Homo sapiens: one gene and its partners. The protein of the gene in region 2 purifies or fractionates together with the protein of the main gene of each other region. This does not show direct contact. Each region holds a gene or a part of one and is shown on either strand. Other genes may lie near its edges. The genes, in order: ARL6IP6, AOC3, MANEA and SLC9A1.

Region 1 (7,493 bases), on a different chromosome or scaffold from region 2:
GGAATTTAAGTTCAAATATCTTTATGTGCAGCTTTTTTTTTTTTTAAAGCATTGACCATCCTTGCACAGGTAAATGACTAGGAGAGTCAGACCTCAGTTTCTGCAGTGTCTGTAGAATGCTGTAGTTCACAGGTTTCCAGTGAAAAAGGTTATTCTATATTTCTCTCCACCAAAATGATTCTGAAGAGTTGAAAACTTTACCTGTCCAGCATATTTTACTCCTATTTGCTTTGATCACTCTAAATTGGGGAGGGGAGATCAAACTTAATCACTCTACATTCGATCACATGAATCAAGTCATTTGATGTGATCACTTTAAATTAAATCATTTGATTTGATCACTGTAGATAGGTGGTTGAGACACTATGACACATGTCCTCCCCTCTCCCATTCTTTCCTAAACTCTCTAATCTACCACTTTATGGCTAATCACCCTTATGGTGACACTAAGTATAGTGTACCTTATTTCAGCAGAAGGGGAAACATGAACCCTTTATCTTCAAATTGCAAAGAAGTTGGTTTCTTAGATATTGCATGGAAACTTTTGTCTGTTCTTGTCAACATCTTGCATGAGAAAACATACTTTTTAGTTACTCATTTTATCAGTGTATGTTTTTACATTGTTTTATCTCTAGAAATAAGCCAAGATTATTAGGCTTCTCAGAGCTTTTATTGATCTGTCACCTCTTGATGCAGTGGAAACAGAATCTTATGAATTAGGCATGAATTCTAAACCTTTTGCTGTTTAAAAGTTGTCCTGATTTCTCATTTAGGAGTAGAATGACGGGCAGTTGTTATCTGAAGGAATGGCTTGCTCAATATCAAAAGGAATGTGATAGGTCTTTTGACATGGTCCTGCTTCCTTTTCCACTTAGGGTTAAATAATCCCATGTTGCTTTTAGGTATGCATGATAGATACTTAATATTTTTACAGCAAATAGGAAAATCATTAAGATTTTGCTAATGGCATGAATTTATTGTCAAGAGTCAGGAATGAGCAGAAAGTGTTGTATCTTTATGGTGAAAAAAACCCAACAGCTATGCCAAAACAAAGCTCATTATTTTGAACCAATGGTCAGATGAGCTCCAGTGGTCAGATGGAGAATAAAAATAGTTAATATCATTTAATGGGCTAATTCAATCAGTTTCCTGGGGGTTAATTTTAAAGAATAGTTATAGCAGATGTATGTATTATAACATATGGATAGAGAATAGTTGTCTCTACCAGAAGAGGATTCTTAAAAATCTGTTTCAGTGAAACAGGGCCAAGATGATTAAGCTCTTAATAAGATTGAGGTGATCGGCCACGCGCGGTGGCTCACACGTATAATCCCAACACTTTGGGAGGCCGAGGCGGGTGGATCACTTGAGGTCAGGAGTTCGAGACCAGCCTGAACAACATGGTGAAACCCCGCCTTTACTAAAAATACAAAAACAAAATTAGCTGGGCATGGTGGCACAGGCCTGTAATCCCACCTACTCGGGAGGCTGAGGCAGGAGAATCACTTGAACCGGGGAGGTGGAGGTTGCAGTGAGCCAAGATTGCGCCACTGCATTCCATCCTCAGCAACAGAGCAAGACTCCAACTCAAAACAAAACAAAAGATTGAGGTAATTGTGGCAACACCTGCCTTTTTTTCTAAGCTGCAATTCTCTACTGTTTTCAAGAAAAATACAAGTTAGCCTATTTACAGAATGTTTTGAATTGACTCCTGTCCTCTGGTTAAAACTCCTCTTGAGATAATTGATAGCTGAAAAGGTAGGATGGTTCTCTCAAACTTGACTTCCATCTAAATCAACGCTGAGTTGATTAACTTAGATATCAAGAAAAATTGCCTCATTAGTTTACCCCTGAGGAGATGCCTATGAAGTTACATCCTTTTTACAATTAATAAGACAGTTTTCACATGAAGAAACAATTTGAAATATTTAATAAGAAAATGTGTTGAAGTCATCCATTACGTTTGGGAAAAGTACCATGCAGCCTTTTATCAGATGATAACGATTTTATTATATTTCACTATTTATTTTGCCCTGTTTATTAGGAACCTCGTAGCCAAATGTAATAATGTTTGATTGTTTTGTATATTACTCTTTATTTCTTGGCATACTTATTATTGCCCACACATGCTATTATCTTAATATTTCCGTGACTCATATTTAAAATTTACTGCAAATTTCCTCATTCTTTGTTTGAAAGTAGGTTGGTTTTTAGAAAAAGCAACGTGAGCACAGTAACTGCTCTACCATGAAAGAGTTCTCTTTCTTTTTCTAGACAGACTGACAAAAATTTTGTACACTGCAGAATTTAATTGCAATTTAATCCTAGTCCAAGATTGGCATGGCAGTCAGTAAGAACAGATTATAGCAGCAATTCTCATTTTGGTATGGGTAACAATCACTTGGGGACTTGCTTTTTTAAAAGCACCTGTAGATTTTGTTTTGGCCATCATGATTTCGTGATACAGAACATTAGAAGTGTTAAAAAAAGTCCAAGAGAAAGGATGTGTGGGAGGTGGCCCATTCTCTTAAAAAGACACAAGTTGAGTAAAACTCAGTTTCATCCTTACAATGAAAATTGATTGAAACTCTGAACTTGAACTTTTTAGCCAGTGTGTGGACTTTATAATTTGAACCTATACTCTATTAAGAAAGTGTTACAGTGCTATCTGTGGCTGGGTGGGGTAGCTCTAATATTTCATCTAAAAAGTCACAAATATCCTATTCTATAGCACAATTTTTGTAAAATTGTCTTACCTATTTGTATTATTCAAGAAATGATGACTAAGGCCAAAAAAAAAAAAAAAAAAGAGAGAAAGCCAAAAAGGACTGGAAGGATATAATCAAAATGTTAGTTTATCTGGGTTTCCGAATTGATTGGTTGTATTTATTATTTTTATTTTCTACAATGTATAAGTGTAACTTGCAATAAGAAAAACTTTAAGGGAAAGCACAAATTTAAGTTTAGAGAATAATGTTTCAGTAATTAACAATAACACCATTTATTGCACTTTTACAATATGCCAAAAGCCATTAATTTGTGTGTTATTTCCTCTAGTATTCTCAACTACACTGTATCCATCAATGTTATTTTCTTCTAAACCAAAACTCAAGAAAGTATGTATTATAATTTTTATACCATAGATAGTCTAGGTAGTATAGCAAGGCAGAAAAAGAATGGGTTATCAGCAAGAATTAGCCATGTGCAGCTAAATTATTAGTCATGAAATTATTACAGGACTCTTCTTAACACATAAAAGCAGTAATAAGAACCAGACATTAGGACCCCTAAATCTCAATAAATTGAGTTGACATTGTGTGGTACTCTGTAGTCCAACTTTGGTGGTTGGGAGGGACGTTTCTTAGGCTAATGAAGTCAAAAGTTAGCTGGCATCAGAATCACCTGAAAGATAAATTTTGCTGCTCTTCACATGGTGCAGAATATCTGACTCAGTAGTGTGAGATGGAGCCCAAGAATTTTCATTTTTGACAAGTTTTGAGTTGATGCTCTGCATGCTGCTAGTTAGGGGGCTATATATACTTTGAACACCACTGGCCTAGTAGTTCCCAAACCTGACATAAAAAAAAAAGCAAAAAAACGAAGACCCTGGAGATTTTCTTTTTTTGCTTTTACGGAATCTTAGACCCTATAATTATCTACTGAATCGAAGTAACTTAATTGGCTGTATGTGTCAGTGTACACTGTACAATCAGGGCTCATTGGACCATTTTTCATTTCTGAATTATTTCGAGCAGTTCTGTTTGTAAGGATTGAAATTTCATGACTTATTCTTTCTTAGGGATCTTCAAAAGAATAAAGAAAACTGAGCTATATTTCTCATAAAGTTTATTTGATCTTGAAATTACCACATTGGTCTATTGGACATTTTTTAATTTTGAAATACGTTTTGGGATTTTAGTGGTCACATATTGTTCTTTCTCAAAACATTCTCCTATTTCATTATTTTAGTATTACTCATCAATTCTCAACTATGGTCGAAAGAATAAAATAATTATGATGGAATTAGGATTCCAGTAAGACTTTCCTAAGACTTTAAGTATTTTTTTCATCTTTTATGAGGTCTGCATCCTAATTTATTTGATACTGTTTGTAAGTGGACAGATGCTAAGGGCAGATGTGTATACAAAGGTGATTTGGAAAAAAAAATGCAAAAAAGAATTATTGGGTTGACCATTTGAATTGTTTGTAATCTAAAAATGAAAATATGTTACAAATTATGGAGCAAAGAAGATTGTTGTCCTCTTTTCGTCAAAATAAGCCATGAAAGGCTTAAAAATTCCTTCAAACATTGTGTTTTAATGACGCAAGTGCAAAAAAAAAAAGCAGGAATAATGACAAGCTGTAACCAATTTGAGATGTATCTGAAATCTGGAAGTGGTATTTACAAGATGGATATGTTGTAGATTCATACATGAAGTTAGTAAGCAATTATTTGCACTCAGGTCGTGCCCATTTTTGGTGTACATGACTTTAGGGAAACTGGGAATTGAAATTCGGATTTGCTGTATTTATTTCTTATGAAAATTTTTAACAAAGTTTTTTTCCTGCTGTCTTTTTGCTCTCTAAATTATTCTTCAAGTGTCATGAAAATAAAGGAAATAAAAAAGCCTCTTTGGACTTATATGATAAAAATATTGATGACTGTTTTCCCTGTTATACTGAAGATTACAAGCTTCAGAGGAGAATATAAATTTAACAGGATTGCCCATGAATTAATTGTTTAAAGCTGGATGATGGGTATATGAGTTTTATATACTTCTCTCAACTTTTTCCTGTGTTTGAAATGATCTGTAATAAAAGTGTTGGGTTTTTTTTTTAATTTTCCCATGTGAATCTAATGATTTACCAATGTTGGGAACTACAGGTGTTATTTATTTTTGAAATTTCAGTCACTTAATCTGTCAGAGGATCACCTTCCTCATCTGTTTCAACAGAAAGATGTAGAAATGCTACAGTCTGGGTTGCAGGTGGTCGGGCGATTGGGTGAAGGCCTTAACCAGTGTAACTGCTATAGCTACCATGCACTCTGCACCCACTATGCTCATGTTGCATTGGCAGGAGAGGAGAGAGCACTTTCCTCTGCTCCTGCACTTGGCTTTGACGTGTAAAGAGACACTTTGCTCTAGGGATTTAAAGACTTGAGCTATCTATAGAATGTGATTTAGAGAGGATACCAAATTATTTAAAATAATGGTCATCCTCTCAAGTTAGAAAACTATAGAATCTAATAAAGTTGAGAACATTTGCTTACATAAACATTTAAAAATTGATGGTTAGTTTCATGCATATGATACATCTAAGTTTTATTAGTAGCCAGCTGGTAATAGTTTTTACAACTTTTAAAGTTAGCTAAGTACAGCCATACACCACATACCATTTTGGTCAACAGTGGTCTGCATATATGCCTGTATGATGGTGGTCCCATAAGATTACAGTGGAGCTGAAAAATTCCTATTTAGTGGCATTGCAACTGTCCTAACTTGGTAGTACAATATATTGCTCACATGTTGGTGTTGATGCTGGTATAAACCAACCTATTACCAATCTAGTTTTATATAACCTTCCAGTCATAAAAAAAAATACAGCACAATTACGTGCAGTACATAACATAATTCTTGATAAACAATTATGTTACTGGTTTATGTATTTACTATGCTTCTTATTGTTTTAGATTATATTACTTCTGCTTAAAAAAAGTTGACTGTAAAACAGCCTCAGGCAGGTCCTTCAGGAGGTATCCCAGAAGAAGGCATTGTTGTCATAGGAGATGACAGTTTCATGCATGTTGTTGCCCTTGAAGACCTTTCAGTGGAAAAAGATGTGACAGTGAAAAACAGTGATATTACCTTGACCCTATGTAGGCCTAGGCTAATGTGTGTGTGTCTTAGATTTCAACAAAGAAGTTTAAAAACTAAAAAATTAGAAATAGAAGCTTATAGAGTAATGGTATAAAGAAAAAACATTTTTGCACAGCTGTACAGTGTCCTTTTGTTTTAAACTGTTAGTAGAAAAGGGTAAAGTTAAATTTTAAAATTTATAAAGTAAGAAAGTTACAGTAAGCTAAGGTTAATTTATTAATGAAGAGAAAAATTTTTTAATTTAGCGTAACCTAAGTGTACAGTGTTTATAATAGTCTATTGTAGTGGACAGTAGTGTCCTTGGCCTTCACCTTCACTCATCAGTCACTCGCTCACTGATTGACCCAGAGCAACTCTTTGTCCTGTAAGCTCCATTCATTGTAAGTACCCTATACAGGTGTACCATATTTTATCTTTTACACTGTATTTTTACTGTACCTTTTCTATATTTAAGTATGTTCAGATACACAAGTACTTATTGTTGTATTACAGTCGCGTGCAGTATTTGGTATAGTAACATGCCGCACAGGTCTGTAGCATTGGAATAATAGGATATAACTGTATAGCTCATAGGTGTGTAGTAGGCTATATACCTAGGTTTTTGTAAGTACGCTCTTGTGATGTACAAACAACAACGAAATCACCTAATGATGCATTTCTCAGAACATATCCCTGTCATCAGTGTATGATTGTATTGTATTTTCATTGTTAGTATCATAAAATGCATTAGTTACGTAAGTAATTTAATCTCACCAGGAAAGATTCCAACAATTAAAGCAAAGGCTTTCACCGATCTACCTGTGTGTCTTTTTACATCTTTTTCTCTTTGTTTACATATGTATAGTCATTTAAAATACATGTTTTTTTCACTGTTATAGGAAAAATATAATTGGAATCATGTATATTTTGCAGCCTTGTTAAAGTGCCTTTTGGAGTATATTCTGTATTAGTATACATAGGTCTACCTCATTTTTTCATGACTGCATTGTATTTCATAATATAAGTATACCAGTTTATTTAAACATTTCAAATGTCAGAATCTCTTACCCAGGACTTGGAAATTACTAGTATACAGTCACGTTTAATCCCATTGTTTACTTATGAAGTTTTATGAAGTGTGTGCAATTGATTGCCTAACACTTATTTAATAGGAAACCTTTCCCTAGTATAGGAACCATGAGAGTTTTGTTTTTTTCTGGTGTATTCTGATTATATATAATATGTGTAAATTGGTGCCTCTGTGTCTGACTTCATAAAACTTCTTGAAAGTTGCCTCATCCCCGTAAGCTAAAACTGTTAAACAAAATGAAAATATTTAGAGCATATAACAGCCTCTTTTGCTGGAAGGTTTTATAGAAATAAAGTTGCCAGCATATTTTTAGAAGAGTAACTGCTCCCTGACACCAGAATGGCTTATTTTGAAAAATAAGCCAAAACAAATATACCCTTAGATAGGTGTCTATAATATTCCAGCAAAGGGATTGGGATAGGAAATTCCTACCCATCCCTGTTTTTGCTTTGGATGAAAACAGTCTTAAGAGGTTTCAATTGATGGAAAAGATTAGTATACATCATTTCATTGGCCAGACGTGGTGGCGTCTGACTGAAATCCCA
Region 2 (8,450 bases):
GCTCCTCCATCTCCAGCAGCTTCCGGGTCACCTGCAGCCTCTGCAGCTGGTGCTCAGGGCTCCAGGGCACAGCCATGGGGACAAAGACCATATCCTCGGCCCAGACCCAGTTCTCCAGTCCTGCTCAGGGTGGGATAGGGGAGGGCCTGTCAGGCAACTGCCCTGGCCCCTCTGGACTCTGCCCCCATCTGGCTTCAGAGTGGGGGCCAAAGAGCAGCCCAGAACTGAGTGTGCCCCTCCTTCTCTTCCCTCTCCCCAGGATACCTCCAATCCTTTAGCCAAAGCTGTTGACCTGTAAATTAAAATACTTCATCAGGGAGTTCATTCCATTTCACTCATTCATTCTTTCAACATTCATTAGCAGAGAGGACTGTACTCGTCCCTGGGGATAGAGATGAATGATCATCCTTACCCTCTTGCTTTCCACGCAGACAGACAAACCACTGACTGGCCTGTCCTGTGAGAGGAGCATGGCCTAGGCAACTTCCGGATCACAGGAATACAGTTGCAGGCAGGAAAAGGGGGCCCTTCCGGGCAACTTTTCAGCCTGGCCTTAAAGGACATTACCAGAAAAGATGATATGGAAGGACATTCTAAGCAGAGACAAAGCATAAGCAAACAGGAGGATGCCTGACTGTAACATGTGAAGTGCGTGTCCAGGGACATGGAGAATTTGGGTGTAGCTGTGCAGAGCACAGCAAGGCAGGGTGGAGCTGCACCGTGAAGGAAAGAGTTTTGAGGGGGTTCTGCAGACAGGATCCCACAGGTGATGACGAAAGTGAGAGCTGAGTAAAGGGCAGGCTGGTGTGGATGGGAGGCCCTCTGGGTGCAGAGTGGCTCTTGGCTCTGAGAGCAACAAGAGCAAAAACAGCAGAGAGAGGGCTGGCACCTGCACGGCATGACAGTCTGACCTGCCGAGATACTGCAGGTGCAAAACAGAAACAAAACAAAATAAAACAAAACCAAAAAAAAACACCTGGTGACTGACTCAATGTGGGGAAAGACAGTGAAAAGACAAAGATGAAGACTCCAAGCCATCATGTAGCCTTGGCTCTCTCTGTGACCAGACTCCAGGATCTATCCAGAATGCTCCACGGGATCCATGTGACCCCTCACACTTAGGTGAATTGTGCCCAGAGAAAGAAGGAAAATCAGGGAGGAGGGTCCATCTCCAAAGGAAATGTACAACCTGGAATGACTGACCTGCACATGCCAGGGACGTGGTAGAATGCAAAGAGATCCTCCAAAACACCACCACCACAGGCCAGACACAGAACTGAGCTGACAAACAGAAGGCTGCTCCCAGCAGCAGAGCCCATATAAGTACAAGGGAGAGAAGAGGGCAATGGGGACACTGTTAGCCCAAATCCTGCCTCCTCCCTGAGCTCGGCCATTTCCCAAGATCTTTGGATGAGGTCACGTAGAGGAAGGCTGCAGCTTTGCACCCAGCCAGTGAGCTAAGATCCAAATAAAACTCAGCAGCCAACTCTCTCCCATCCAGCAAAAGGGGAAGTACAAAAATCCACGTCTTCCTTTCTGGGATAATCTACATAAAACCCAAAGCTAATGGAAACAACTTTTCAGCCCTTCTTCCAGAAGCCTTCTCCCCACCAAAATGTCTTACCTGCTACATCCAGATCCACCTTGAAGTGGGCGCTGTGGGTGTGGACCGTGCCCAGGGTGTGCTCTGACACTTGGTTCCCGTACTTCCCAGTAGCACCAAAGAGGAATGCCGAGCTGATGTAGCCCGTGGCATAGAATCGTATTTCTATGGCCCCACTGGGGTGGAAGACCGTATCCCACACATAGTCATAGTTGAGCAAGGTGGACATAGATCTGACGACCAGCACCGTTTCCGCAAGACCCCCAAAGTAGTGCGAGTAGAGATCTGAGTGGTGTCGCCGCAGGGGGAGGCCCTGGTTCTGTTCAAACACACAAAAGGCATCACGTATTGTCTTGGGGGCCTGGGACTCCAAAAGGAAGTGCCAGTCCACGTAGGTGGCCAAGTAGGGGCAGTCCACCCCACGGGTCAGGGGCGTGGTGTACTTGCCCATGCCAAAGCCTCCATCCACATAGCGGGTCGTCATTGCTGCTGGGGAATTTCCACCATAGATGGCCAAGGCCTCTTGGAGGCTTATCTCATAAACTAGTCTTTCTCCTTGGAAGCGAACGTCAAAGATCCTTGGGCCACTGAATGCTCCGAGGCCAAAGGAGAAAGTCCACAGTGAGGAGGCCACTCGACTTCCCTGGACACTGAAGCGGGGGCCTTGGGGATAGAACTGTAGAGGGGGAGCTGGACCCGGGGGCACAGGGGACTTCAGGGACCAGGACCCACCTGTGCCATTGTCTGGGATCAGCACCACATTCACCAGGCCGGCCTCAAACTGGGCCTCCAGCTGGGCCAGGCTGTCGTAGTAGCGGCCTTGATAGAACACCTTCTGGATAGTCCAGCGGGCAGGGTCAAGGGCCTTGTGGTTCACTAGCAGCTCCAAGCCCACGTGGTGCAGGAAGAACCCAGCGCCCGAGATGTTGTAGTAGAGGCCAAACCAGGTGGCCCGGTCCCCTGATTGCAGACCACGGGGAGCCGTGGTCATTGTCACCAGGTTCCGTCCCCGGTGCTTGTAGAAGCAACAGTGGTGGAGAAGCCCAGAAGCCTGGGGCAGCTCTCTGTTGAAGATCATCTGGTCTATGTCCAGGTACTCTTGGAACAGCACGGGGCGTCGGTGATAGGGCAGGGGGCCTCCATGACGCTCCACAGTCACGTCCCGCATGTAGGAGGGGTGAGGCAGTGGCCCCACCACCAGCTCACTCACGTTGGGCTGGGGTTGCCTGCCAAAGAAGACGATGGCCAGTGCCTCCCGGGCAGGTGGGGGGCTCCCCCTGTCCAAGTGAGCCAGGGCTGCAGCCTTGGGAGGCAGCTGCAACTCCACTGAGAAGACACAGTTGTCCGAGGGCCGGGCCTGGGCTGCATCCACCAGCCCTGGCCCCAGCCGCTGGGTCAGAAAGCGCATCACAGCCGTCAGCTCCTCTCGGCTCAGGTCTGCAAACAGCTGGCTCTGGCCAGGGTGTGTCCAAGGCTGGGCACTGGGAGATACAGAGGGGCAATGGGGAAGCTGGCTGGGTTCACCCCCATCTCCACCCCTGCCCACCAGCAGGACACAAACCAAGGCAAAGATGGTGATGACGGCCAGAATGAGGAGCACGAGGATTGTCTTCTGGTTCATTTTCCCACGAAGAGGGACAGCTGATTCAACCAAAGGAGAGCAATGTATTCTCACGCCAGCAAGACGGGGGCTCTGTTGGCTCCTGGACGGGGTGGGGGGCTCCCGGACTCTGGCTGAGGTTCCCGGTAGTCAGATGCCTGGGACTAAGGGTGGGAAGGACACAGGAAGGCTAGGGCAAGGGGGCGGGGTGGCCGGGGTTGGAGGCGGGTCTGAACAGCTGTGATTTCCACAGACCTTACATGGTTTTGTCTTCCAGCCTCCAAATCACTCTACTTTCTGGGTCAGGGTTGGAGTTGGGGAGAGTTGGGGCTAGGGGGAAGGGGAAGGAAAATTTCAAGATAATGCAGCACTGGGAAGGAGCAGGATCTGTGCAGAGCAGCCTCTCCTGACCTCAGCCCAGCTTCTTCCCCAGTCCCCCACTTAGTCAGGGCCAGATATTTTCCTGTAACTTCAAACTATCGTTTTCCTTCCAAAGACCCCCACCCCCTGCCCCTTTAGCTTTCCAAATGACATTCCTTGGCCAGGTCTATCCCCCTTGCCCTCTGGCCCCCAGCGCTAATTTCCCTGGCCAGACTCCTTAGTATTCTCCAGAGGACTCTAGATACTTAACAGGTCAAACAATAAATTCAAGTAAAATTCCTCTAATACTTTTTATTATAAATTACATACAACATCTGTTTTACAAAATTCTATCTACTCTTCCTTTTGAATGCACATGCATAAAGAGATGTCTGATGTAATGTGACCACCTATTTCTGAGTAGTAGGATTTGTGATATTTTTCTTTGAATATTTAAAAATCATTTTTATAATTTAACACTTTAGAGATGAACAGGAAGTAAGAATTAACCAAAGGGACTGATGGGGGTTTCGTGTGAGAGGAACATTGAGGGGGTGGGAATCTGGGGAGCAGGTGTGATAAAAACACGGAGAATAGAAAGTAGAAACAGGGAAAAGTACATGTGCCTAACCACGCCGCCCGCCACACCCTCAGGACTAGAAGCCGTGGTAAGAGAAAGGGGGTAAGTCCGGGACACAGGCTGCCAGGTCGGGGAGGCAGGCCACAGGATTGATGCTGCAGAGCCCAGCATCCTGGCCCTTCTCAAAGTAGACACTGCCAGGGGAGAAGATGGAGGGGTCCTCATCAAAGAAGTTATAGGGTCGGAGCAAGAAGCCAACTCTGTTCCCCAGAGTCACTGTGTTTGGGATGTCCTCGGCATGGGGAATGTGCAGGAAGCTGGCTGTGACCCAAGCCACCAGATCCTGCAAGAAGAAGGAGGAGCTGGAGGACTATGGAAGCGTGACCCAAAGAACCACCCTTCAGTCACAATCCCAGCCTCCAGTCTCAGCCTGGCTTCCACTCTCCCCAGCCTCATGCCCATACAACACGTGGAGCAATCCATGTAAGCAGCTGTGCGGGGAGAGGGGGGAGCCAGTGTCCCAGAGCTAATCTCACCCCAGGAGGGATGACCTGTGTTGGTCATCAGAAAACTCCATGGCCTCTGAATCTGCGAACTGGAAATCAGCCATTCCCTCTAACCTTTGGCCAGAGGCTGGGCAGCCAAGATGCCATGCCCACAGGTGTCCCTTTCCTATGTCCCTAGGGCAACCAACCTCTCCTAAGAGGGTTTCATTGTTGATGAAGTCAGCAAAGGTAACTGTGGGTGTCCAGATGTCATTCTGGTGATAGATGCTACTGCTCTGTGACTCCTCCTCCTTTCTCTGGGTCACCACAAGCTGGTATCTGGCCAGGAATCATAAGAAGGTGGTTTTGGGAAATGTCAAGTGCCTTTACTGGCCCAGGAGTCCCTTAGATCCGATTCTGTGTGAGACCATTTCCCACCGTGTATCTAACTTGGGTTTGAGGGGAGGTACAGGGATGAATGGTAGCCGTGGGAAGGGAGTTTGTCTCCAAGGACTGGGGCAGGGGAGGGGCTGTCCTTTCCTTCCACCCAGGCCAGGGCCCTCCTCACCTCCCCCAGCTGAGGGCCCTCTCCATGTCACTCTCCAGGGGTATGTGTATGCCAAGGGGGCTGTGGATCTGGATTCGGTACCCGCGCTGGTGACCCCACGCATTAGTCTGGTTGCTAGCCAGGTAGAGGTAGCGGGGTAGGGGGCTTCCCAAGGAAAAAGCTGTCAGGTCCTCCTTTCCCAGGACCTGCCGAGTCAGCTGTGGGCGCTGTAGCCAGTGCTCCGGGTTCCAGGGGGCAGCCACAGGTTTAAACACCACGTCTTCAGCTACCACCCAGTTTTTCAGCCCTGCCAGGGGGAGGGAAAGGAGATGAGTTCCACACCAGGTAAGGTCTCTGGGCCAGGTCCCTGTCTTCCCCATGATGTCCACTGCACTGGTGTGACAAAAGGCAGAGAGAGCATCAGAGCACACTGTGCTGGGAGCCAGGAGGTCTGGGCAAGAGCAAGCTCCTATCTTCTTCCAACTTGCCCTATCCGATAGGGTAACCACTAGCCACACGTGGCTATGAAAATTAAAACTTAGGGCCAGCTGAGGTGGCTCACACCTGCAATCCCAGCACTTTGGGAGGCTGAGGCGGGTGGATCATGTGAGCCCAGGAGTTTGAGACCAGCCTGTGCAACGTGGTGAAACCCTGACTCTACAAACAATAAAAAAATCAGCCAGGCATGGTGGTACATGCCTGTGGTCCCAGTTACTTGGGAAGCTGGGGTAGGAGGATTGCTTGAGCCCAGTAGGTTGTGGCTGCAATGAGCTGAGGTCACACCACTGCACTCTAGCCTGGGCAACAGAGCAAGACTCTGTCTAAAATATATATATATATATATATGTATATATATATATATATATATTCAGTTCCTCTGTCACACTAGCCACACTTGAAGTGCCCAGTTGCCACACATGGCTAGTGACTATTGTTTAGAGCCACAGCTCAAATACGGAATATTTCTATCACTACAGAAAGTTCTATTAGCACTGGACTACCAAACAGTCCCTGGACCAATTTGCTTCTCTGATTCACTTTCTGAATCCCTACACTGGGCATAATTAAAGCTGTTCTATGGCTGTGCCCAATAAACAGAAAAGCACTTGCAGCTGACTAGTGACATTCTTTTAACTATGAAAGGGATAATGATATTTGTCTTGGAGAAGCTAGCTGAAAAACTGACTCCTGAGCCGGGTGTGGCAGCTTGCAACTCAGGAGGCTGGTGGCAGGGTGATGCAGATCCCTTGAACCCAGGTGCTGGACACCAGCTGGGGTAACGGAATGAAACACTGCCTCTTAAAAAAAAAAAAAAAAAAAAAAAAAAGGCCGGGCATGGTAGCTCACAGCACTTTGGGAAGCCGAGGCGAGTGGATCACTTGAGACCGGGAGTTCAAGATGAGCCTGGCCAACATGGTGAAACCCCATCTCTACTTAAATAAATAAATAATTTAAAAAAATTAGCCAGGTGTGGTGGTGTGCTACTCTGGAGGCCGAGACACAAGAATCGCTTGAACCTGGGAGGTGGAGGTTGCGGTGAACTGAGATTGCACCACCGTGCTCCAGCCTGGGCAACAGAGTGAGACTCTGTCTTCAAAAAAAAAAAAAAAGCTGGGCGTGGTAGTGTATGCCTGTCATCCCAGCTACTAAGGAGGCTGAGGCAGGAGGATTGCTTGAGCCCAGGAGGTCAGGGCTGCAGTAACCTGTGATTGCACCGCTGCACTCCAGCCTGGGTGACAGTGAGACACTGCCTCAAAAAAAGAAAACCCAATCCCTTCCCATGGTCCCCTGCATACTCCTCCCAGCTCTGAGACTTCACTTTTGATCTCAGCAAGGTGGGAAGTACTGTCAGTGTTTTTCAGAAGCAAGCACATTCATACCTTTGTCTGGGAGTTCCTTGGAATTCTACAGCATCCATAACCTGCACTGCCTAACTCAGCACTTGGTCATACACTTTCTGCAGGTCTGGACTGTAAGTTCAACGAGACCTATATGAAGGTACCTGGCACGGGAGGCACTGCACTGAAGCTGGTGCCTCTGCAGCCATCCTGTGAGCTGGTGCCTGACACAGCCTCTCTGGCCCACAGCAGCAGCCCATGCTGCACACGCTAGGGGTCCAATAAATGTTACTTCCCAAAACAAGCCTCTTTAATGCCAAAGATGCTGAAGAAAAACTTCCAATCAGAAGACAAGTCAAAATCCAAGTATGTCAAAGAGTAATCTAGTTAATATGATCATTTCAATCATGCTATTAGTCCTTCCTACCCTCCACACCACTGCGAACACAAGTGCAAGTGCATGCACAGAGACACACGCAGGCACGCACGTGCCATGTCTTTAGACTTGAGGATAAGAAAACATTTCACAAGAAATACTAGTTTATGTTGCATTATACTTGGGCAGTCATTTCCTGTCCCATCTCCCGCCACCCTCCTTAGTTTCCCTTAAAATGGAGAGGGTCTGGTGAGTTTCTAATTTTCTTTGTGGATCAGTGTGTGAGTCTGTAAGTTCCTTTCTGTCCTTGACAAAGTCTGTCAGGAACAGCAAGTCCTCTGTGTGCTTTGAGCCCTTTGTGCTTGAGAAATCTCTTTCCATACTTGCAGCAAGCTGTGTGCCTGCCATGAGTCAACTGTGATGACAGGAATGGGATGGCCCTCCCGATGAGGAGTGGCCCTATCCTGGGGAGCAACCCCAGCTTTGCTACCCTCTCCTTCCTAAGCCCCAGGTCGACCCCCACCCTGAAGACTCTGGACAGACTTCTTCCGACCTCGGCTCAGGACCCTGCCCTCCCCACCCCTACTGACCCTCAGAATTAGGAAGAAGCAAAGTGCTCCAACTCCAGCCCCATTGGGCCAGTTCACCCACCCAGTGTCACTTGAGGCTAAGGCAATCATGCCCAGCCATTACATTTAAACTAGTTTCACAATCATAGCAAGTCAGAGGGGCTGGGCGGGGGAACTCTTTTCACCTTTTACCAGATACCCAGTAGCCCAGTACCAGACTCACTGCACTGAATATGCTCAAACAGTCCCTGCCCTGTTGCCACTAGAGCTGTGGTGTTGGAACACCCTGCTCTTGCCACTTGTTATTTCAGCTTGACCTGGGAGATTCCCTTCCCTTCCCTCCACCCCACCTGACCCCGCCCCCAAGTCTCCATCCTCATCCCCTCAGCACTCACCTGCCACATCCAGGTCCAGCTTGAAGTGGAAGGCATGTGTGTGCACCGTTCCCAGCACTCTTTCCCCCACACGGTTCCCAAAGAGGAGGCCCTCCTC
Region 3 (7,493 bases), on a different chromosome or scaffold from region 2:
AAAATAAACAGAAAAATGGCAGATTTAAAATCATATCATTATTACATTAAACATAAATGAAATAAACAGACATTAAGACTGACAGAATAACTTTAAGAAACAGAAAAGCAGGACTAAATTACATGCTACATGCCTAAAATTTGAAAAAGCCCAAACACCTATCAACAGGTGAATATAAAAGCAAATTTGCCAAAATCAAACAATAGGAGACTTCTCATCAATAAAAATGACTAAGCTATTGATATAGTTAAGTGCAGTTCAAAATATTGTGCTGAGCAAAAGACATACACACATACAAATGCTGAATGACTCTATTTTCATAAAGTAATAGAACACTCACAACTATTCTCCAGTGATAGAAATCAGATCTGATAGAAATCAGATCCAGCTGATATGTATACAGTTTTCAGCGGTAGGGGAGAAGGTAGGCCTGAATAAAGGAATTATGATGAGACTTTTTGGGCTATAGAAATATTTTACTTCTTGATTGGGGTGGTATTCAAACAGGTATATACTTTTGAGTAACATCAATGAGCTATAAACTTAAAGTGGGAAATTCATTGTATTTTATGTAAATCATAATTTAATAAAATTGAGAAAGTGAATTAAATTAGAAATCAACAATATATCCAGAAATGCTCCAAAATGTAAAAATTAAACAATATACACTAAGGGCAGTGTTAAAATGTGGTTGCCTGGATGTTTAAGATCATACATACAGTTTAATTTGGAGGTATGAGCTTAACAATATAATTAATAATAATGAGAAAATTAACTAGTAAAGTTACACAAAAAATCATTTATATGCATATATACAGACACAAACACACATATATATATATACAATAATTACCAATTGAAGCTGAGCGCATTTGTCTCATGTGAGTTTCTATGACAGAAGGATCCCGAGAACTGTAACTTCCCAATTCAGGATAAAAGCTGGAGCCAATGTCATCTGGAGGGTTGTGTCTCCCTTGTGGATAATTCTTGGCTATTCTAGGGTCCCAATGCTCTAACACTGGATGATTCCAATGTATATATTTACCATCAAATTGTGGATTTCCATACCAACTGTAATAAAATACATGTAGATAATTGTTCAGAGGTGGTAGTTCATCCAAGTTAAGTTCAGAGGCTTTGGAAGGTTTCATAGTGATTTCAACACTTTTTAAATTCTTGGTATTTGTTTCACTGTTGATTCTGTCACTCTTTTGGAAATCAAAATTTTTCCCCAAATGAATAGTTCGTTGATGAAGTTCTGGAAGAAGGTCAAGTCCAAAAGGAGCTCCAAAAGTAGCTGTATTTGGTCTCAGCATTTTTAAACCCATCATCAGAGAGAAAATAAATAGAATAAAAAGTGCCAAAATGATGCAAGTCCTTCTCCGAAACTTTGCCATGATGACATACTTTAAACTCCAAAATAGTAAGTGTTTTGCTGCAATTTATTGAAAAAAGATAATTAGTAAGTGTTATCAACAGTATTTTCCAATATATTCAACACGAAAACTAAAATCCATAAATTTCATTACATTGAATAATTAATACTGATTTCATCACATATTGGTGAAATTAAGAAAGTGAAGACATTAATTATATCATCATATATAAATGTGTACAATAAGGGTCTATGGCTAGAATAAACGGCAATATTCATTTGGATATATCACCATGTACATGCCAATTACGTTTAGTCAGACGAACCTTTAGGAAATTTTATTTAAGAAATTAAAATATGTTTTTCATTACTTGAACAGATTACATGTATGCTGAATGTAGGAAGGGAACATTCTATGTATGTGAACTAAAATTCTGTTTAAAAATCATTTATTTATTTATTGTAGAGACAAGGTCTCACTATGTTGACCAGGCTGGTCTTGAACTCTTGGGCTCAAGCGATCCTCCTGTCTCAGCCTCCCACATTGCTAGGATTACAGGTATGAGTCACCACACACCTGGCCTGAACTAAAATTTTCTAAATCTAAGTGTAAAATTTACAAATCACAGTTAATAAAAAGGAAATACTTACTAGTGTATGAAAAACCCAGTCATTAAACAGATTTTCTAAAAAATTTTTAACTAACAATTTCATAAAAGGGAAAAATTACAAATTTTAAATAACATTTTGAAGTGAAATAGAATCAGACAAAATTTTTTAAATGACAGTAGAGAAAAAAAGAATAATCACAAGTAAGATATTCCCAATTTTTTCAAAAAATTCATTAGGCTGGGCATGATGGCTCATGCCTGTAATCCCAGCACTTTGGAAGGCTGAGGCAGGAAGATCACTTGAGTTCAGCAGTTTGAGACCAGCCTGGACAACCACGGGGAGACCCCATCCCTACACAAACTTTTAAAAAATTGGCTAGGCATGGTGGTGTGTGCCTGTAGTTCCCCAGCTACTCATGAGGCTGAGGCAGGTGGATTGCTTGAGCCCAGAAGGTCAAGGCTGCAGTGAGCCATGATTGTGCCACTGCACTCCAGCCTGGGTGACAGTGCAAGAAAACGTCTCCAAAAATAAAATTAACTTACGACTCTGAAAATCTTACTGAACAGAGGTTATAAACAGTAATTTATAACTTCTGAAAGGGTATTATATGTGTTTTTGTTTTAGTAAGTATGTTTATGGACATATATTAATGCAGTGCTTCTTGGCTGATTAAGAAAAGACATTATTGTTGTGTGTGTATATATATATATATATGAGTATAAGTATATAGGTACATATACACCATATGAATGAAATATTCAAGTCTTTTTATATACAGATTTCTTATTAGAAAGGTATTTGGCACAATGCTGACATTGACTGCTTTATAAAATGAGTTCTATGATACGGTGCTGTTATTATAGAGAATTAAGTTAAAAAAGACTTAACTCCAATAGAAAAGAAAGACAAGTGAAACTTCCTACAAACTGCTGCTTCTATTCTATCGGGGGAACCCATCCCCAATATTTCAACGTAGGTTCTTTCTATTTTCCATAAATGTCAACCAGTCTGAGAAATAAGAGAGAGAGTACAAAGAGAGGAATTTTACAGTTGGGCCACCGGGGGTGACATCACATATCGGTAGGACCATGATGCCCACCTGAGCCACAAAACCAGCAAATTTTATTAAGAATTTCAAAAGGGGAGGGGGTCCAAGAACAGGGAGTAACTCACAAGATCACATACTTCAAAGGGCAAAAAGGAGAACAAAGATCACATGCTTCTGGGGAAACAGGAGAAAAGGCAAAACAGAACTACTGGTAAGGGTCTATGTTCAGCTGTGCACCTACTGTCTTGATAAACATCTTAAACAACAGAAAACAGGGTTCGAGAGCAGAGAACCAGTCTGACCTCAAATTCACCAGGGTGGGGTACTGGAGGAGACCAGGGCGTATCTCAGTCCTTATCTCAACCGCATAGGACAGACACTCCCAGAGCGGCCGCTTATAGACCTCCCCCGAGGAATGCAATTCTTTTCCTAGGGTCTTAATATTAATGTTCCTTGCTAGGAAAAGAATTTAGTGATACCTCTCCTACTTGCACGTCCATTTATAGGCTCTCTGCAAGAAGAAAAATATGGCTCTTTTTGCCCGACCCCACAGGCAGTCAGACTTTATCGCTGTCTTAAAAATCGCTGTTACTCTGTTCTTTTTCAAGGTGCACTGATTTCATATTGTTCAAACACACGTTTTACAATCAATTTGTACAGTTAACACAATTATAGTGGTCCTGAGGTGACGTACATCCTCAGTTTACGAAGATAAGAGGATTAAGAGATTAAAGTAAGACAGGCATAAGAAATTATAAGAGTATTCTTAGGGAAGTGATAAATGTCCATGAAATCTTCACAATTTATGTTCCTCTGCTGCAGCTCCAGTCAGTCCCTCCGTTCGGGGTCCCTGACTTCCCACAACACTATTCTACATGTATTTAAGAAACACTAAACTAACCAAGTATATTTCTTTAACAGCTAAAATCATAAGAATTATTTTTAAGGTTAATCTTGTTTAATTGTGAATAGTGAATAATATAAAGAATAACATAAAAGAATAGTATAAAAGACATGTCTAGTTTAAAACATATAAAGTAAACATTCAAAAAGAAATCTGCCAGCTTAAAAGCTCCTTTCCACTTCTCGTGCTCCCTCTGAATCACCAGTCCTGCCCTTCTCCCTGCCTAAGGGCAACTGCTTGAATTTTGTGTTTACCATTTCACCTCTTCTTTCTTTATAGTTTTCCCACCGCACACAAGCATATCTAACTAAAGTTAACTGTATTTTGTCTGTTTCAAACTTTAAGTAAATATGGTGTGTGTACATATATACGTCATATATGTATATATGTATACTGTATATACGATATGCATACTGTAAATATATCAAGGCATGCAGGTACATACATAAACGTGTGTATGTGCATATGTACACATACATGCACATATATGTGTATTTACATATTGTGCATCTTATGTTATATATGGATACATGTCATATATATTTAGATATAAATATGTATGATTATATATACATAATTAAATGTATTTAAATTTATAAAACTCTTGGGAAACAATATTAATTACTAAATCTTTTCTGACACTTTACCTGGTATCCTAACTCTTACCCATCCCTGCATTCCATCACATCAGTTCCCTCCCTCTCTAATAAAAAGCTATGTAAATGAACTTTTAGTAAAGGAATAGGTAGACAGGTCTGGAGATTTTGTTTTAATAACTATATACATACTGACAAAATGTTCCTCCAGAAGATATCTAATTAATTACAAATGGGGAAATAATAACAGTGGAAAACCTACCAAAACACCAATTTAAACTAGTGATCAAAATTGACTTTATCAGTTAATTTGGATAAATAAGTATGGCCATTAGTCTTCAGCGAACCCGTACTGAGAAAAACACAGAATCACTGCTGTGGTACTCTTGTTAAAAATTAATCCAGATCTAATCACGAGGAACCATGAGACAATATATTAAAGAGAGGATACACACATATACATAAATACACACATATTCATACATATATGTACACCACATACATACACTATATATAAAATGTATGGCTTACATACAATGCAACGTATAATAAGTAAGGGTATGTGTGTTTGTGTATAATGGTAAGCAAATATGGTAAAATATTACCATATGGTGAATATGCAGGAAAAGTAAACAGAAATTGTTTGTGCTATTTATCCCAGCAGTAAATAGAAGAATGTGAGCTGTTAACATACCTGCTTATTTCTGGAAAGGGCTAAGTCACAAAGTCTTTCAAACCCTGCACTACATGACTCTGTGAAGTGAAATTTCTACATGTGAGCTGTGGCAGTCCTGTTGCACTAACAGGTATAAAAGGATGGGCTGGGCGTGGTGGCTCACGCCTGTAATCCCAGCACTTTGGGAGGCTGAGGCAGGCAGATCACGAGGTCAGGAGATCAAGACCATCCTGCCTAACACGGTGAAACTCCATCTCTACTAAAAATACAAAAAATTAGCCAGGCATGGTGGTGGGCACCTGTAGTCCCAGCTACTCGGGAGGCTGAGGCAGGAGAATGGTGTGAACCTGGGAGGCAGAGCTTGTAGTGAGCAGAGATCGCGCCACTGCACTCCAGCCTCGGCGACAGAGCAAGACTCCGTCTCAAAAAAAAAAAAAAAAAAAAAAAAAAAAGATGATACAACCATTTTGGCATGCCACTGTAATTTGTTGTCCTGAAATTTTCAAATCATTGACATCACAACAAACATTTCCCTTTGATTGAAGAAAGGGAAAATTTTGATGAGACATGAAGCAAAAATAATATTTTGGATGTAATATATCAACTACTATGATATATAATATCATATCTGTATTAAAGATACACATAGAAGGAAATATACTTAAACATGTAAAATAGTTATGTCTGGATGAGACAACAGTGATATTTTCTTACTCTGTTTTCTAAAAGTAGAACATAATACTTCAGAAGGAAAACATTTGGATAGGTATTCTATAAGGAAAAAAACAATGGTAATGAATGTTGGAAGAGTTACAGAGAAAGGAGAAATAACTAACAGATTTATAAATTAGTAAGGCATTCATTTTTGAAACGTTGACTTCAGCTGAATGGCGAGATTCATGAAAGATCAAGATATATAATAAATCTTAAGATGTAAATTCAAATCAGTCACACTTAGTTGTGTGATCCTGGGTAAATCACTTAGCCTTTTCTTAAAAAAGAGGGTATCTGTTTTGCCTACTGATAAAACTATTCTGTGAATCATGCAAGACAATTTGAAACAGTAATGTTTTAATCAAACAGTAAATACTAATGAATTTATAAATAAATGAAAAGTGAAGAAATATTGGAAACTCTAAAAAATTTCTTAGGTTCATTTTCTGGATACACTCATGAATACAAAGCACAAAATGTCCATTTATGGAAGCTGTTTTTTTTTCTCTCTCTCTTGCCTATGAATGTAATTTCTTAAGCTGATCCTCTGTCTTCTCATTTTACATTACTTCATTCATTCAATTAAAATGTGTGTTTATCACATCATTATAGATGACACACAAGCTCAATTTTAAGAGATGATCTGCTGGCTCTGGCTCAACCTCCATGTCTCAATTAAGTCATCTCAACCTAAATAAACACAGATGGGCATTGAGATTTAAAATATGAGCTCTGTAGTTCAAATGCTTGAGCTCAAATTCCAGCTGTGCCATTTTTTAGTTATCTGACCTACAAAACTGACCTGATCTTTCTGAGTTCCTTTCCTCACCCATAGAATGAGTTATTACTTCACTCATAGGATTTTTGTGAGGATGAAATTAGTTAATATTGTAAAACTCTCAAAATCATGTGGCTTAGTATAAGACTAAATAAATGAGCAATTGTTTATGATGATGATTAAAGATGGGTGTCCGACAAGCAATTAAAATATAACACATTTTATTCTAAATGCCTATTCTCTATATGACCAACTATTGAAATACCAGTCACCTTCAAGTCAAAGTTGAAATGCTGCCTCTTCTTGATACCTCTCCTAATTCCACAGTGAAAAGTACTTATTCCTCATATATTTTATTGTTAACAGTATTTACTTTTTAAATTGTCATTTCTTTTTTTTTTTTTTTTTTGAGACGGCGTCTCACTCTGTTGCCCAGGCTGGAGTGCAGTGGCACTATCTCCGCTCACTGCAAGCTCCGCCTCCAGGGTTCATGCCATTCTCCTGCTTCAGCCTCCCGAGTAGCTGGGACTACAGGTGCCTGCCACCACGCCTGGCTAATTTTTTGTATTTTTAGTAGAGATGGGGTTTCACCGTGTTAGCCAGGATGGTCTCGATCTCCTGACCTCGTGATCCACCCGCCTCTGCCTCCCAAAGTGCTGGGATTACAGGTGTGAGCCACCGTGCCCGGCCAAATTGTCATTCCTTATGTATTATATCATGCTGTGCATTTATCTTTATATCACCTACTAGATTGCTCCTTAAGTTTCAGAAATGGAGTCTTTATCTTCAC
Region 4 (7,493 bases), on a different chromosome or scaffold from region 2:
AGGAAGCCGAGGAAGATGTCCACGATGCCCACGTGTTCGTAGTTGGCAAACTCCTCAAAGAGGTGATACAGGACCTGGGGAGGGTGTGCAGGCTGGTGGGTGGGAGGAGAGGGCCCTGGCCCCACGGTTCCCTGGGGTCCACCCAGGGCAATCCTGTCCCCTCCGTTAACCATGGCCACAAGAAGAGGCCACACGGTAGCAGAGAAACCCTAGTGCCAAGCAGGTGCTCAAAACCTCAGCCTGGGGCTGAGGGGCTTGCTCTGGGCCAGCCACGTGCCCCACTGGTGAAGGGTGGGCCCTGGGAAGCTCTGTGAAGACCCTGAAGCCAAACTGCCTGGACTGGAATCCTGGCTCTGCCACTCCTGAGTTGTGTACAGGAAGCAAATTCATCTCCCTGTGTTTCAGTTTTCCTGTCTATAAAATGAGGATAATAATACCAAATCTTAGGACTGCTGTGAGGACTAAATCAGCGAATCAAGTGCTCGGAGCCTTACCTGATGCAGTGTTAGCCACATCTGGTGCTATCAAGTCTGCCTCTCACTGCCTGACCTTGGGCACGTCATGCCCATCACTGGGTTTCAGTCCCTCCTTCAGCACAAAAAAGGGACGTTCACACAATGAACTAGAATGTCATTTCTTAACCTCTGGAGCTTTCTGAAAATACACATGTTCAGGCCATACTGGACTTGGACTCTCTGGGATAGGGCCAAGAAATCTCTATGTAACAAGCACCCCAGGGGTTGCAATGAACAGCCAAGTTCAGATGCTATGGAATTAGAGGCTAAGGCATCCCTGTCTCCTGGACTGGGAAATAGATGGTCATTGCAACACTACCATCAGATGTTTAAGTGGCACTTCATACACTGTAAAGCCCTTTGATAGTCTTTATCTGAGTCGACACTCAACAACCATGCGAGGCAGGTGGGTCAAGGATGCTCCTTTGCTAAACCGAGGCTCACAGTGGTAAAACAACACGCCAGGGGGCCCCCAGCCCAGGAGCAGAAGAACTGGGCCCAGAACTTATTCCCTGACAGCCATGGCTGAGGCCTCCCCAGCAGGCTCAGCTTTGAGGATCTGCCCCTCCTATTGCTAGGTCCCTGAGCTGCCTGGCCTACTCAAGTCTGTCCTAGACAGCTCTGCCAGGAAGGAGCAGGGAGTTTCCAGGCCTGGGGGAAGGGAGGGAAGGACGTGAGGATCCATGACAGGGAACCCTCCAAAGCCCCCAGGACCTGGAGCAGGAGGAATGGACCGTGAGGAGTGACCTGTCTAGGGCACAGACCTGAGACCAGGCAGCTCAGGGTCAGCCTCTGGCTTTACTCTCTGGGAAATGGGGCACTCACACCTATGCCAAGAGCTCCAGAAAGACCTGACTTGGGCCAGGCAGCAAGGGGAGATGCAGAGCACTGGCCAGGCCTGGTGCGGCCTGGCCCCAGCTGTCTGGGGGATAGGACAGGGCTCCAGCGGCAGACAGCCTCTTAGCAGGTGCGTACTCAGCCGTGGGCTAAACTCATTCCTGGCCTGAGGGGATTCATGGGTCCTCATGGTCTACCACATGGGCCCATGGAGTCGGCACAGAGGGGAAAGTCCTCCTTTCTGGCCTGGTGCTATTACCCCTGGAACTATAGAGAAACAGAGTAACACAGTGGTAAGCACTTGGGCTTTGGACTCAGACTACGGATTTGAACCTCAGCTATATCATATATCAGGCTTATGTAACCTCTCCGTTCCTCAGTTTCCTCATCGCAAAAAAACTGGAATATAACTGTGTCAACCTCATGGAGTTACTGTATAGATTAAATGAGGCAACATAGGCCAGACACAGTGGCTCACGCCTGTAATCTCAGCACTTTGGGAGGCCAAAGAGGGAGCATCGCTTGTGCCCGGGAGCTTGAGACCAGCCCAGGCAACATAATGAGACCCCATATCTACAAAATAAATAAATAAATAAATAAATAAATTAGCTGGGTGTGATGGCCAGCACCTGCAGTCCCAGCTACTTGGGAGGCTAAGAGGGGATGATCATTTGAGGAGTTTGAGGGTGCAGTGAGCTATGATTGTGCTACTGCACTCCTGAGTGACACTGTCTGTGTGACAGGAGACTCTGTCTCTAAATAAATAAATAAAAATGAGGCAATACACATTCAGACAGGAAGCACCCAATGAACACCAGCAATCACTACCACCGCTGCCACTGCCTTTGGGAGACATGACCATGGGTCCACAAATGGCTGGGTCTGTTACCTGCTTGATGCAACCATGCCCCAAGCTCCACAGCAGTGCTCACCTGAACCCCAACACCCAGATCCCACTGGAGAGGGCTTTATCTTTGGCACTCACTGGCTTCACAGACATTAGTGAGTATGACTCACTAATGTAAGTAATCCTGTAAGAAGCCTGGGAGGATGACAGGCTGAGTACTGCAATCCCTGTGTCACAGATGGGGAAACTCAGGCTCATGTGGTAACCCTGGGCAAGAGCTAGTGCTAGAGGAAGCCAGGATGGAGGCCTGCCTGCTCAGGTCAGGCTATTCTACCCAGCCCCATGAGGAGGCGTGGGAGGAACAGGAAGCTGAGGCTGCCAGCAGCTGAACACCACAGTCTGTCTCTACTCTGAGGTGCTGCTTCCTGAAGGCTGGGGCTGCAGAGGAGGGAGTCATGGCCTGGGAATGCACATGTGCCCTTGAGCTTTCCTGTGTGTGCAGCTGCTCTGAGCGGGACAGCTCAGGAGGGGGTGGGAGTGTTCTCACAACACAACGTGAGCATGCACATGCACACATCTGTTTCCCAAGGAAACCAGCTGGGAGGAAGGGCATGTGCAGGTGTATATGGTGCTACCACGTGCAGACCCTGGAGGAAAGCACTAATCCTCTGCCACTTTGCAGCTATCAAAGGTGAGGCTGGCTGGGCGCAGTGGCTCATGCCTGTAATCCCAGCACTTTGGGAGGCTGAGGTGGGCGGATCACCTGAGGTCAGGAGTTCGAGATTAGCCTGGCCAACATGGCGAAACCCAGTCTCTACTAAAAACACAAAAATTAGCTGGGCATGGTGACACACGCCTGTAATCCCAGCTACTTGGGAGGCTGAGGCAGGAGAATTGCTTGAACCTGGGAGGCGGAGGTTGCAGTGAGCTGAGCTTGCGTCACTGCACTCCTGTCTGGGAGACAGAGCAAGACTCCATCTCAAAAAAAAAAAAAAAAAAAAAAGGTGAGGGCCACAGAGGTATAGCATTTGCTTAAGGTCACACAGCAAGCAAGTGGCCAACTTCTTTTACTTATCACCTTCTAGATGTTTTGGAGACAAGGCCCCTTTCCATAATCTCCGCCCAAAAACTGTGCACAAACCGAATTCTAACTTAAGATATAGCCAACATGAGAGCTGAAAGGCCCCTCACAGATGATATGGTCTGTGAAGAGGGAACTGAGGCACAGAGAGTGTAAGTAATTTGCCCAAGCTCACATCAAAATGCAAGAGAAGGGCCAGGCTTGTTGGCTTAGGTCTGTAATCTCAGCACTTTGGGAGGCCGAGGCAGGAGGATGGTTTGAGGCCAAGAGTTCAAGACCAGCCTGGGCAACATGGTCAAACCCCATCTCCACAAAAAATTTAAAAAATTAGCCGGGTGTGGTGGTGCATGCCTGTAGTCCTAGCCACTCGGAAGGCTGAGGCAGGAGGATCTCAGGCCCAGGTATTTGAGGCTGCAGTGAGTTATGACCGTACCAGTTCACCAGCCTAGAAGACAGGGCAAGACCCTGTCTCTTAAAAAACAAAAAGCAAGTCAAGTCAAGGAGGGAGCATATAACCTAGCAAAACCAAGAGCTTAGGCCCTGGAGTCAGTCAGACCTGGTTCAATCACAAACTGGTTCATACTCCAACAGGTTATTTAACTTCTTTGGGCCTGTGTCTCCCCTGGAAAATGAGAATAATAAGCACCTCTTAAGGCAGCCATGAGGACTTAAATGAGATAATCCATGCCGAAGGGCTCAGCATGGTGCCTGGCATACGGGAAGCGGGAATGTGCCTCAGCTGTTTTTATTACTGTTATTAGCGGGTGGATGAGGGATTCACTGGTGGGCCTGGATTTGGGTTTGTACCGTTTGGACATGGGCATGGCCCCTGGCCTCCTCACCACAGTGACGGCGTCATTGAGCAAGGACTCCCCAAAAACAAGGATGTGCAGCAGCTCATTGATGTGAATTTCCTCAAAGACAGCCAGAACCGCCACGGGGTCCACGGCCGAGATGATGCTGCCGAAGAGCAGGTTGTCCAGGAGGCCGATGTTGTTGATCTGCTCACCGCCCACCAGGCACACGGCGTACATGAGGCCGCCCAGGAAGAAGGCGTTCCACAGCGTGCCCACCACGGCAAAGATCAGGATGGTGCCCAGGTTTTCTGTGAACTGCCGCAGTGGCAGGAAGTAGCCCGCATCCAGGATGATGGGCGGCAGCAGGAAGAGGAAGAAGACGTCGGACTGCAGGAAGGGGGGTGTCTCGCCTACACCCTTGATCAGGCCCCCCACCAGCAGCCCCACCACGATCAGCAGGCAGCTCTCCGGGACGATGCTTGAGATAGTGGGGATCACATGGAAACCTGCGGAGGGCGAGAGAACGGGAGGCCATGGGCTTTCGGAGGAGCCAGGAGAATAGAAGGTTGGGGATGGGCCGGGGATGAGGAGCGCAGTTGGTGAGAGGTGCACAGGCTGGGTCTCAGAGGGCTGCTCTGTTAACTCTCTGAGCCTCCGCTTCCTCGCCTGTAAAATGGAAGGGACAATGCTAGCTTCACAGGTTTGCCATCATAAACCAAGTGACAGTGTTTTTAAAGCACTTTTTTCAAAGGATATATACATGCTATCTCTGTCACTGTCATAAAATGTTAGAAAGCAGCAGTTCTATATGCTTCCAGAAGGCAGAAATTATAAATTGATTACTGACGTGCCAAGTACCTACGGGCATCACCTACGCCTGAACCCAAGGCATTATTCCAGGCACAAGTTCAGGGAGGCAGATCTGAGCTCAACCTGAGGAATAACAATCTAACAATTCTGTCTGAGGGAAGATGGTAGTTCCCTATCACGGAGCTGTTTAAGCAGAAGGCAGACAACCAGCTGGTGGGGAGTGGCATAGGAGACAGAAGAAAGCACAGAAGAATCTAAGAATACCAGCGTGGGAAGGAACTTGGGGATAATAAGGCCTGGGGTCTGCAAACCTGCAAAACAGTAGGCTTTCCTACTGAGTCCAGGCAGCTGCTCAAGACACGGCTCAAGGATGTCAGTGGCAACCAGCTTTGGCAGGTGAGATAAAATCTATTTGCTATCCCGCTTCTAGCTCAATGCCACCCACTTTAAAGATGGGGCAACTAAGGCTCAGAAAAGGGAAGGGACTTGCCCAAAGTCACACAGCAAGTGGGGAGCAGAACTAGAATAGAACACAGGTCTGATGCCCCAGTTCCCATCAAACTGCACAGTTCTGTAATTCAAGCTCTCCTATCCTTCCCTCCCATCAAGGCCTCCTCACACACCCCTCTGCCTGGGACCCACCAGCCATCTCCCCAGGCCGTGTCCTGGCCAGCAACAGGCCGCTCTGCTGTAGTCCACCTTAAGGCTTCAAACCCAGAGCTGAGGAGTAGCAAAAATCCCCGTTGAGAGGGCCTCTCTCAATATCAGGTATGGCCAGAGAACCCTGAGCTCCTGTGAGTGGTTTACTTGTTTGTTTTGTTTTGGGGTGGGAAAGTAGGTGGAAAAAAATCTGAGCATCTAGTTGTATGTTGGGTACTATGCTCCCAGGGTTGGCATAGCCAAGAGGGTTTGTCCCTTTGCTCAAGAGGAAAGCTCTCTCTGGCCTGGCATGGTGGCTCATGCCTGTATCCCAGCATTTTAGGAGGCTGAGGTGGGAGGAACACTTGAGGCCAATAATTTGACACCAGCTTGTACAACATAGGAGACCTCATCTCCACTTAAAAAAAATAGCTGGGCATGGTATGCACCTGTAGTCTCAGCTAGTTAGGAGGGCCGAGGCAGGAAGATCACTTGAGCCCAGCCTCAAAAAAAAAAAAGAAAGAAGAAAGCAAAGCTCTCTCTCCTCCCCTTCCCTATCTTGCAAGCTCTGTGCAGGCAGATCCCATAACTGCTTATCATTATACACCCAGGGCTAGGACACAAGAAGTGCTCAACAAATATCAGCTGACTTGAAAATACACAGGGCTGGGACATCACCCAAGATTTCCGATAACCTGCATGCCTGGCCAGGCCTCTGCTCTCATTACTTACTCTTGAGATCCTTGGGACAGAGGAGGAACTTCCCTCTCCATGCCCAAAGCCCTTCCTACTCTCAGGTAGGAATCTGGGCAGTGCTAGTACGGTGACAAGTCAAAGTTCACACTGCTGGCTGGGCACGGTAGCTCACGCCTGTAATCCCAGCACTTTGGGAGGCCGAGGTGGGTGGATCACCTGAGGTCAGGAATTCAAGACCAGCCTGACCAATATGGTGAAACCCTGTCTCTACTAAAAATATAAAAATTGGCCAGGCGTGGTGGTGGGTGCTTGTATTCCCAGCTACTTGGGAGGCTGAGACAGGAGAATTGCTTGAACACAGGAGGTAGAAGTTGCAGTGAGCCGAGATCACGCCACTGAGCTCCAGCCAAGATCACTCCACTGCACTCCAGCCTGGGCAACAGAGCAAGACTCCATCTTGAAAAAAAAAAGTTCACACACTGAACACTATCCAGGCCCAGAATCCTGGCACAGTGCCAAGCACCCTGAAGACACTCAAAACACATTGGGAAAAAAAGATGTCTCCATCCTAGGCCAAGAGGACCTCGAAGGCACCATGTGCATTCTCCTGATTTCAAAATAGACATGACCAAAAGTCACTTTTTGTTCATCTACTTCCCACATCAATAAAAGGGAAAATAATTCCAAAATCACCCCTTTTGCTGAAAAGTCCCCCAGTCTTTGTACTGTCCACCAGTCAACATCCAGTGTGTAGCTGGCTGGTCCACTGGGAAGGGCTAGTCATGTTGGACCCAAGTCTCTCTTGCTGTAGAGGATAAAGCCCACATTTTCAGCACTGCCTCTGTCATCTGCTCTTGCCTCATGTCCCATTCTCCCCACTGTCAACTCTTAGGTTTCAGCCTTGCCAAATTCCTTGCAATTGCCCCATATGAGCCACATCCTCTTTTGCCTGCCAATCTTCACCTAGTCTAGTTCCTCTCTCTAGAAATCATTCCTCTACCTCTACCCCCACCATATGTGGCTGACACCATATCCTCTGCCTGCCTCCTCCTTCAGGAAGCATTCCCTGACCACCACCTGTCTGCTCAGGTTAGGGCAGGAATCTTCTGGTGCTTCCCTCTCTCATAACCTTCAATCCACAGTCATCTCCCAGGTTCCTCTCTCTCTTCCTGGCACCCACCGAGATCAGTCAGACAACCCAGGCAGAAGCAGCTGAGACAAGACAATGGCATCAGACCCCAAAGACCTGCAGTGTGCTGGAGGGGAGACAG

Evidence for each region.
Region 1: the proteins of AOC3 (region 2) and ARL6IP6 purify together in Homo sapiens (affinity purification with mass spectrometry; 2 studies listed by BioGRID and IntAct, with this or other methods). This does not show direct contact.
Region 3: the proteins of AOC3 (region 2) and MANEA purify together in Homo sapiens (affinity purification with mass spectrometry; 2 studies listed by BioGRID and IntAct, with this or other methods). This does not show direct contact.
Region 4: the proteins of AOC3 (region 2) and SLC9A1 purify together in Homo sapiens (affinity purification with mass spectrometry; 2 studies listed by BioGRID and IntAct, with this or other methods). This does not show direct contact.

The regions. Positions count from the first base shown.
Region 1 is NC_000002.12:152,721,319-152,728,811, forward strand, and holds part of ARL6IP6 (ADP-ribosylation factor-like protein 6-interacting protein 6), read left to right. Parts: intron 1-7,493.
Region 2 is NC_000017.11:42,846,118-42,854,567, reverse strand, and holds the start of AOC3 (amine oxidase [copper-containing] 3), read right to left. Parts: upstream 3,370-8,450; 5' UTR 3,225-3,369; coding exon 1,625-3,224; intron 1,297-1,624; coding exon of another isoform or gene 1,204-1,296; intron 553-1,203; coding exon of another isoform or gene 476-552; exon of another isoform or gene 121-475; coding exon 1-120. Other genes in the region: AOC2 (amine oxidase [copper-containing] 2), read right to left, coding at 4,220-4,486, 4,838-4,967, 5,197-5,482, 8,354-8,450. UniProt on the Homo sapiens protein: Catalyzes the oxidative deamination of primary amines to the corresponding aldehydes with the concomitant production of hydrogen peroxide and ammonia. Has a preference for the primary monoamines methylamine and benzylamine.
Region 3 is NC_000006.12:95,580,344-95,587,836, reverse strand, and holds part of MANEA (glycoprotein endo-alpha-1,2-mannosidase), read right to left. Parts: intron 1,436-7,493; 5' UTR 1,398-1,435; coding exon 854-1,397; intron 1-853.
Region 4 is NC_000001.11:27,109,704-27,117,196, forward strand, and holds part of SLC9A1 (sodium/hydrogen exchanger 1), read right to left. Parts: intron 4,584-7,493; coding exon 4,123-4,583; intron 75-4,122; coding exon 1-74. UniProt on the Homo sapiens protein: Electroneutral Na(+) /H(+) antiporter that extrudes Na(+) in exchange for external protons driven by the inward sodium ion chemical gradient, protecting cells from acidification that occurs from metabolism.